Regions from separate parts of the Homo sapiens genome. Here region 1 is linked to region 2. The links come from fine-mapping of genetic effects on gene expression. A gene starts in region 2. The other region holds a variant in brackets. All regions are shown on one strand. Distances are between the middles of the regions. Region 1 has its middle 25 kb from the start of CD300E. Region 2 holds the start of RAB37-AS1 (RAB37 antisense RNA 1).

Region 1 (4,389 bases), 28 kb before region 2:
GCGTGAACCTGTGAGGTGGCAGTTGCAGTGAGCCAAGATCACACCACTGCACTCCAGCCTGAGCAACAGAGAGAGACTCTGTCACAAAAGAAAAAGAAAAAGAACAAGAGCAGGGCAGTGTGACATTTGCTACCCAGGTTCAGGTCCAGGGTCTGCCAGCCATGGCCAGAGACATAATAATTGCTAAGAATTACTGAGTTTACTTTGTTTCAGAGACCACTTTAGATGCTTTCTGTTATTACTTTGCTTAAATCCCGTGCAAGTCAAACAAAGTAGGTATTATTATTATTATCCAGATGCATAAACTGTATGGCACAATCACACATCCCTGGGTCCTCCCAGGAGGGCCACCACACTCTGAAACTCCAGTCTTTTCTATTTTTCAGAGACGGAGTCTCACTCTGTCGCCCAGGCTGGAGTGCAGTGGTGCAATCTCAGCTCACTGCGATCTTCACCTCCCAGGTTCAAGCGATTCTCCTGCCTCAGCCTCCCAAGTAGCTGGGATTACAGGTGCCCACAACCATGCCCAGTTGATGTGTGTGTGTGTGTGTGTGTGTGTGTGTGTGTGTGTTTAGTAGAGATGGAGTTTTGCCATGTTGGCCAAGCTGATCTCGAATTCCTGACCTCAGGTGATCAGCCTGCCTTGGCCTCCCAAAGTGCTGGGGTTACAGGCATGAGCCACCGCACCTGGCCTGAAACTCCTTTCCAAACCTAAGTTTAGATTTCCAATGCCACTGAAATCTCACCTAAATTCAGGGCAATCAGAGGGAGAAGCTTCTACACACCCCAAATCTCAGGCTGTCTCTCCATCTCCTTCCCTTGGTCAAGTGGCAACCTCCCAAGGACGGCCACAAGGCACCCAGAGCCCAGCTGCAGAGTCCACTGGCTCTGTGGGAGTCCTGGAGATAAAGGACACCACCGTCCCCTCTCAGATGCCCCAAGCTAAATGGACCCAGCAAAGCCTGGCCCAGCAGCTCCAACTGCTGTCTGTGGGGAAGCTGGCTGAAAGAGCTCCGGGGCAGGCTCCGTGTCTTATCTGTCCTGCAAATCCAGAGCTGTGGGTGCCAGGAGCCAAAGCCTCATTTCTGAGCCTGGTTTGTGTCCTAGCTTAGCCCAGATCCTAAAAGTCAGGAGATGAAGGAATGGCCATCATTCTTCTTGACTCAACTGCATGTTTGAGAACTAAGATGCCAGGACTCACAGTGACAGGAGAGGCAGTGCAGTCCCCCAGTGCATAGCAGCTGCACCCTGAGGCTGGTGTGTCTGAGCAAAGCCAATGCAGAGCTGCGGGCCCTACAGATCCCATGGGGAAGGAGGGAGAGGGGAGGGCAGGGGAGGGTAGCAGCTGAGGAGGGTTCTCACTGCCTCGCCTGAAGCTGAAACCTAGCATCCAGTGGGTGATAGTGCCTGGCACGTTGCATTTCCCAGGGATGGAAAAATGTACTTTTGTCCCCTCCAATCAGTTGGAGGTGTGCCTGGAAAAGTGAGTTGAGAAGGATGGGGCTGAGCTTGGGCCTCCTGGGCTATCACAGCCACTGAGTACTGAGTGAAGAGTGATGGCTGATGAGAGAGGGAAGCGAGGGTGGGTGTGCGTGTGCCAGGCTTTCACAGCTCCAGAGCTGAGCTGCTCCAGAGCTCATATCGATAGAGACAGAATAACTTCATCCACAGGATTCTGCCTGCTGAGAATCAGAAACAAGTTCCCTCTTCCTGGCCAGCCATGCCAAGAGCCCTCAGCTAGACCCGTCAGGATTCTAGGTCCCTAAGGGGCACGGAGCCTCCATGGACTGTCCTGTTTGTGGTTTTAGCCTCTGGGAACAGTTGGCTCCCATCTGACCCAGCAGCAGCCAGAAAACATCACCACACTTGATCCAAGAACCCACCGTTGGGGCCACCAGGCAACCAAGCCACCAGGCTGAAGTTGCAGGCAGCCCCTAGCCCTCTCTCCTCACCTCTCCGTCACCCTCTTCCTCCTCCTTTCCTGCCATTCGCCATCTATCAAAATAAAAACTCAAATTTTAAGGACAAATCCTAGAAAATGAGTGAATACAGAACATCAGGGAAGAGGAATGTAGCATTAGTTTTATCCCTTAGGCCTTGAGCATTGATGAGTTTAAAGAAGGAAAAATCAAGAAGGAAACTTGAGTGAAGAGAGGCAACGAATGGGGGAAAAGCTGGGCAAGATGTTAGAAGGACCGGATTCTAGTCCCAG[T/C]TCACCACTCACCTGGGGCACCAGACGTCACTGTTCTCACCTGAGGTCCTGGTTGTGCATAGGGTTGTCTCTGGGCATTGGAGGGGAGAACCAGGGAGCCGGCCCCCAGGACCACCCCTGCATCACTTAATGCAGCTTCCAGATTACATTTTATTTTTAGTAGAGACGGGGCTTCACCATGTTGGCCAGGCTAGTTTTGAACTCCTGGCCTCAAGTGAAACACACACCTCAGCCTCCCAAAGTGCTGGGATTACAGGCGTGAGCCACTGTGCCTGGCCTCCAGATTACGTTTTATTTCAACAAGAGTTTCTGCAACCAAAAAAATTAGAGTATTAAATATTTTCTACAAAGAGTATATACGACCTGTAAGTTATAAAGAATAATAAAATGCACACCTATGTGCCCCCACCCAGCTTAAGAAAGAGAATAACTTTAATTTTTTTATTTATTTTTTGTTTCCTGATTCAAATGTAACATATATTGACTATAGAAATTTTGCAAGATCCGGAAGAGAGAAAACAAGTATCACCACAACTTCATTATCTTTTTGCAAACATTCTGGTGACAATTCTTTCCTGTTTATCCTGGGTGTGTATCTTTTTTCTGAAATTGAGATCCTATGGTGCAAATTGTCCCCTTTTTTCCATCATGGCCATCTTCCTTGGATCAGCTAATTTCTTGGCACCCTTTCACCTCCAAGATTTCAAGTTAAAAACCCCCGGATTTTTTGTGGGAGTGGGATTCAGAGTTGATTTTCCAAAAAGAAGCAGTAGTAGGAATTGACAGATTGGGGAAAATCTGTCCTGTCTGGCTTCTACCTGAAACATACACTACATTAAGAGGTTGATAAAGTGCATCCTGTCATATCTCGCCCAGAGCGGTATCTCAGGATTAATGTTGATTGATGTTTGTGTCTCATGAGGCTGAAAGCATGAGGCATCTCTGGAGATAAGAAGGAAAATGAAAGCCAGTGCTTTCAGGATTAAAAAAAAATGCCTTAGAAGGCTTCCCTGCAGCTCCAAGCCAAGCACCGGGGCCTGTGATAGATTCTCAGTACACACTGCGTGCCTGTATCTCATCGTTGTGCCTGTTCAGTCATCATTTATCCAGAGGATAAGGCACGGTTCTATAAACCTACCTAGAACACACTCAGGCAAAAGGGGACATACATTAGAGGAATACGAGGCTATCACCCATCATTCAAAGAAAATCCATGGGAAAGGCAAGGATCCTGTTGGGTGTCGGGGTCAACTGGAACCGGGCAATCAAACAGCCCCTGGGTTCTCTCTTCCTTGTCCTCTCTGGGCTCTATTCTCTCACCCTAGAGACAGCTTTCTCCAGGAGGAGGGAAAATGGCCACTGACACCTCTCACGTTTTCCATCTTAGGAGTTTTATTCCCAGAGAAAGCCTTACTTCCTTCCTTAGCCTCAGTTAAAAGTAAAAAGAAACCCTGCCTGGGAAGAACTGAGATTGGCCTGACTTTCATCAAGTGCCCAATCCTGGACCATTCCATTGTGTCCAGGGTCACTGAAAGTGGCAGCACACCCCACTGAATTGCAGCCATGCAGTTAGGGGATATCTGAGCCTAAGAGCAGTCGCTGATCCTAAGCAGGAGTTGAAATCATGAAAGTGGCTGCAAATCACCCAGTGAGTGTATAGAAGGAAAAGAAGAAAGCAGGGCAGAACACTGGGCGTAAACACAATTTAAAGAATGGAAAGAAGACAAGGAATCCAGGAAGAAAAGTGAAAATGGCTATAAAAAAAAGCAAATAGGTGGAAAATCCAGACAGCACAGAGCCACAGGAGCCAAGAAGGCTGGAGTTTGGAGGAGGACGGAGTACCCACCAGCATGGAAGTCCAGGAAAACATGCAAAGGAGAATGGCCCTGGGGTCTGGAAGCAGGAGGGGCACTGGTGATCTCTGCAAATGCCATTTCCGTGGAGGGTGGGAGTGGAAGCCAGGTGAAGACCAGCAAATACAACCTGAGGGTAGTTCTTGAGGAAAATAGTTAGGGAAGGTGGGAAAGGTGGAATAGGAAGCGGGAGAGGCAGAGGAGACAGTCCCTTCCACCTTAACCACATGGGTTTATAGATCAGACCTCCCTTGACACCAAACCCTTTGCATGCAATCCCCTGTTATTCAATCCAATGTCACATTAAATGTCCATGCTATACAC
Region 2 (4,389 bases):
AGGAATGATAATACCTGCCTTATTATTTTTGAGCAAGGATGTTAGCGAATATAATGTAACGCGTATATATAAAATCTCTGGAATATAGGAAGCATTCAATAAAAGTGGTTGTATTGGCTGGGCGCAGTGGCTCCCAGCACTTTGGGAGGCCAAGGAGGATGAATCATGAGGTCAGGAGATCGAGACCATCCTGGCCAACATGGTGAAACCCCATTTCTACTAAAAATACAAAAATTAGCCGGGGGTGGTGGCATGCACCTGCAGTCCCAGCTACTCAGGAGGCTGAGGCAGGAGAATCGCTTTAACCTGGGAGGCAGAGGTTGCAGTGAACCAAGATCACACCACTGCACTTCAGCCTGGTGACAGAGTGAGACTCCATCCGAAAAAAAAAAAAAAGTGGTTGTATTAGGGCATGCATCTTGGGCTCCAAAGCAGCTTCAATGGGTGTCACATTCAGTCTCACCTAAAATGATGAGCTTTGTGAGAAGAGCAGCAGCTTCATACAAGAGAATCTCAGAAACACACACACTACCTATTTCACAGGCAGAAGTCCATGGAAATAAACTCACACAACCCATCTATACAAAAAGCGTGACTTCTATGCAAACATCCCAGTTCTGACTTCCTAAGTTGAGTATCTTTTTTCTCTTGGAGGTGGTGTATGGGACTTGATGAAATTCATTTATATGAAAAACATACGCCAAATATCATGATAGGCATTGTGTAGCTCTTGCACTTTAGCTGGTCCCAATAGTTGGAGGCTGACCCAGGCAAGCCCAAGTAACTCTTAGAAGATTCCCGTAGGGTGGGCTGGAAGCTGGGAACTGACTGAAAACATTGAGCTCATCCATCATGTGCCTGGAGTTTTTAAATAGAGTTGTTGTTGCCACAAATCTGAAAATTTGGTGCAGCTAAATAATTTAAAACAAAGGAGCAACCTGGCTGCTCTTTTCCTTAGAGAACTCTCAGTTCTCTCTTGCCACCAGCTTCAAGAGCCATCCAGGGCAATGGTCTGGGGTAGGGGTTCAGGAACAGCCCACGGATTGGGTCCCTACTGTGCCAGGGTCTGACCTTGAGCTCCCAGAAAATGAAAAGATTTTCATTTCATTTTCACAGAGAGGGCAAGCTTTTGCCCCAGATACCAGTGAATTAGGACAAAAGGGCTTCAGTTCAAGCACTTACTTCCTAATTCCCTATCACCAGGGCTCTAAGGAACATCCACATACCAGACTAGCTTCCAGAGGGACGAACAATTCCTAGGACAAAGTCAGTCTCAGAAAGACTGGGGGTGGGGGGCAGAAAAACGTGAGCTGCTCATCCATTCATCCAGGGCTTGGTTCTTCTTGGGTGAAAAGGGATTACCAGGTCTCTGTCTTCCAAAGTATGTCCATTTCCTCCGACTGCTCTAACACCTCTTCTGGGTGAAAGGAAAAGGCAAGCAGGTAATATCTGCCACTCTCCCCCATCTCCTGCACTTATTCTTCACTTCCTTCTTCTATTACCCATCTTGTAATTTCTGTGTCCCTCAAAAGTCCGCATGCCTCATCGATTCATTCAGCAAACATGCATTGGACATTTCCAAAGCGTAAAGAACTAGGCTGGTCATTGTCGAGAATATAGACGCAAATGATTCCCACCTTCACTAAGCCTGTGGCCTAGAAGGCATGCACACAAATGGCTATACTTTTATATAATTCCAGAAGTGTCCTAAGAAAGATACGGGTAGCTGCAAGGGAGTGACCCAGGAAGAAAAGGTCATGTCTGACTGAATTTGAAATGTCCTCTCTCACTTATGGCTTCTGATTAAAGTTAACCTCCAGGCTTGGCACGGTGGCTCACACCTGTAATCCCAGCACTTTGGGAGGCTGAGGCAGGTGGATCATGAGGTCAGGAATTCGAGACCAGCTTGGCCAACATGGTGAAACTCGTCTCTACTAAAAATACAAAAATTAGTCAGCCGTGGTGGTGCACGCCTGAAATCCCAGCTACTCAGGAGGCAGAGGCAGGAGAATCGCTTGAACCCAGGAAGCAGAAGTTGCAGTGAGCTGAGATCACACCATTGCACTCCAGCCTGGGTGACAGAGTGAGACTCTGTCCCCCCACAAAAAAAATTAAAATTAAAAAATAAAAAATAAAGTTAACATCCATGAGAGACAGAGTTCCACACATCAGCTAGCTCCCTCCCCATGGGACTGTCACCTATTAATCCTAGGGAAAGGTCTGGATACAACAGTGTTCTCCTTCCCTGCCAGAAAATTGTACAAGAGAAAGACAAATAAAACAGCAAAAGACCATACTCGCCATTCTGTGTTCCTCTCTCATTCTCTATCCCACAGGTGCTTCTTTTATTTTTTTTTCGATGAAACAATGATAATGATAATGGTATGCAAATTTGTCCTCAAAAGAATCCAAATTAGCAGAAAAATCCATGCCCTGTAAGTGAAGAGAGTTTTGTTTTCAAAGCGCACTAGTTCCAATTCTCAAAGATTTCTATTGTCAGCTCAGGAACAAACAAGAAAGCCAAGAAAAGCTAGCTGCTCCCTGTATAATATTTCCACTGGCTTGTTTTCCTCTCTTGCTTGCTCTGAAGGCTTACAGATAAACAAATGAAGTGTATATTACATCACTGGCAATCTGGTGCCGTCTGGGACTCCTTTGGCTGATAGGTCGGTCCTGCCCAGATCCCAGAGCAGGCAGCTGGTGTGGGGAGTGGTGGTGCCTGCTAGTTCTCTTAGGATAACCTCAGCAGGAAATGATGGTGACTCAGTCCAGCGCCTCAAAGTCGTTTTCCAAACTCTCCAGGCTTTCCTCTCCTAAGCATCCTTTCCTTTAATTTGTGGTCCCTGGGGCCTTTTGTGAGAAAATGTCTGAGACTCACTTGTGTTGCTGCCCTAATGTTTCCTCTTATAAGCTGTTCTAGGGAGGGACGTCCTTCAGTTTCAGGGCAGGAAACTCCGCCTTACTGGGTGGAAGTAAACAGCCAGAGGTGAGCACCAGGCTGGAGAATTGTTGAAGTGGGCATTTGAAGTGGCTCTAAATTTATCCCAATACCCTTCTTGCTTCCTTCCTCCTCTTCTCAGGCAAGAGAAACAGTCTGTAGAGACTGCGAGTGCGAATGGAGATCACAGCTCCTTGTTAACTCACTCAGGCAATGTAGTTCCCAGCTGGGAGTGGCCCTGGACATCCTCCTATCTCTTAACCAGAGGAGGTTTTCTGGGGCCAAGAGAGACAGCTCCAAGCAAACAGATCTGGAAAATATTAACCCCTAACTGATGACACCAGGCCTCACCCTGCTCCTAAAGGGAGCAAGGCCTTGAGTGGTGCAGTGAAAATAACTTGAGACGTGCAGGGCTCAAGAATTCTCCCAGCACATGGTTCCTGACCTTGATTTCTAAGTCAGCTCCCTCCCTTCTCATTTGCTTATCAGCGCCTTTTCATTTGCTTATTAGCACCTTCTCATTTGCTTATTAGCAGACAGTTTCTACCCATCAACATGAGGATGCTATTTAATCATTTGTGCTTTTGCAAATGCACATGCTTTTAGGTATCTGAAACCAAGCTGTGCTTAAGTTCAAATTTTCTCTTACTTGCTAGCCTTCTGCCCCTGGCCACCACACACACAGACACACAGACACACACACACACACACACACACATGCCTGCACATGCACACATACGCACCCTTCCTCTCATGAGCTGTGGGCAGGGCCAGTGATCATCCGTTTTTGTTCTCTGTCTCCCCTTAGCTTTTGTTATGAGCCTTTTAAAAGCAAAGCAGGCTGGGTGCAGTGGCTTAGTCCTGTAATCCCAGCACTTTGGGAGTCCAAGGCAGGCAGATCACCTGAGGTCAGGAGTTCAAGATCAGCCTGGCCAGCATGAGGAAACTCTGTCTCTAGTAAAAATACAAAAATTAGCTGGGCGTGGTGGCAGGCGCCTGTAACCCCAGCTACTTGGGAGGCTGAGGCAGGAGAATCACTTGAACCCGGAAGGCTGAGGTTGCAGTGAGCCGAGATCGCACCACTGCACTCCAGCCTGGGCAACAAAGCAAGACTCTGTCTCAAAAAAAAAAAAAAAGGCAAAGTAAACATTTCTCCTCCTCTTCTTCCTCCCTCGCCTGTTTGAATTTTGCATTCATACCCTCTCCCAGCAACTCTGTTTATTAAAAATCGGAACTGTCATTTATTAGAGCAGTACCCCTAGGGGAGAGTCAGGAACTGGTAACACCTTCCCCAAGCTCACAGTGAGAAGCAGTGTAAGCTTTGGAAGGGAATAAAGTCTGGTACACAGTCCAGATGAGGCAGACACCCCCTTTCAGCCCCTGGAGTCTCCCTCCTCGCCTCCCCCATGCCTTTACCCAGATCCTTCCTCCTTCTCTGGGTCCCACCTCAG

What was found. PIP is the estimated chance that this variant, and not a neighbour inherited with it, causes the effect.
Region 1: its variant is the best candidate, but not a certain one, in a credible set for the expression of RAB37-AS1 in whole blood (INTERVAL, PIP 0.63).

The regions. Positions count from the first base shown.
Region 1 is chr17:74,646,955-74,651,343 of GRCh38, forward strand. No RefSeq gene overlaps it. Among named protein-coding and RNA genes, the nearest start is that of CD300E, 25 kb to the left of the region's middle. The variant T/C (reference allele first, on the strand shown) is at 2,213.
Region 2 is chr17:74,675,052-74,679,440 of GRCh38, forward strand. It overlaps RAB37-AS1 (RAB37 antisense RNA 1), which reads right to left and starts at 2,559. Exons shown (of 2, transcript XR_007065904.1): 1 at 2,298-2,559; 2 at 1-1,417. It also overlaps a transcript of RAB37 not described here.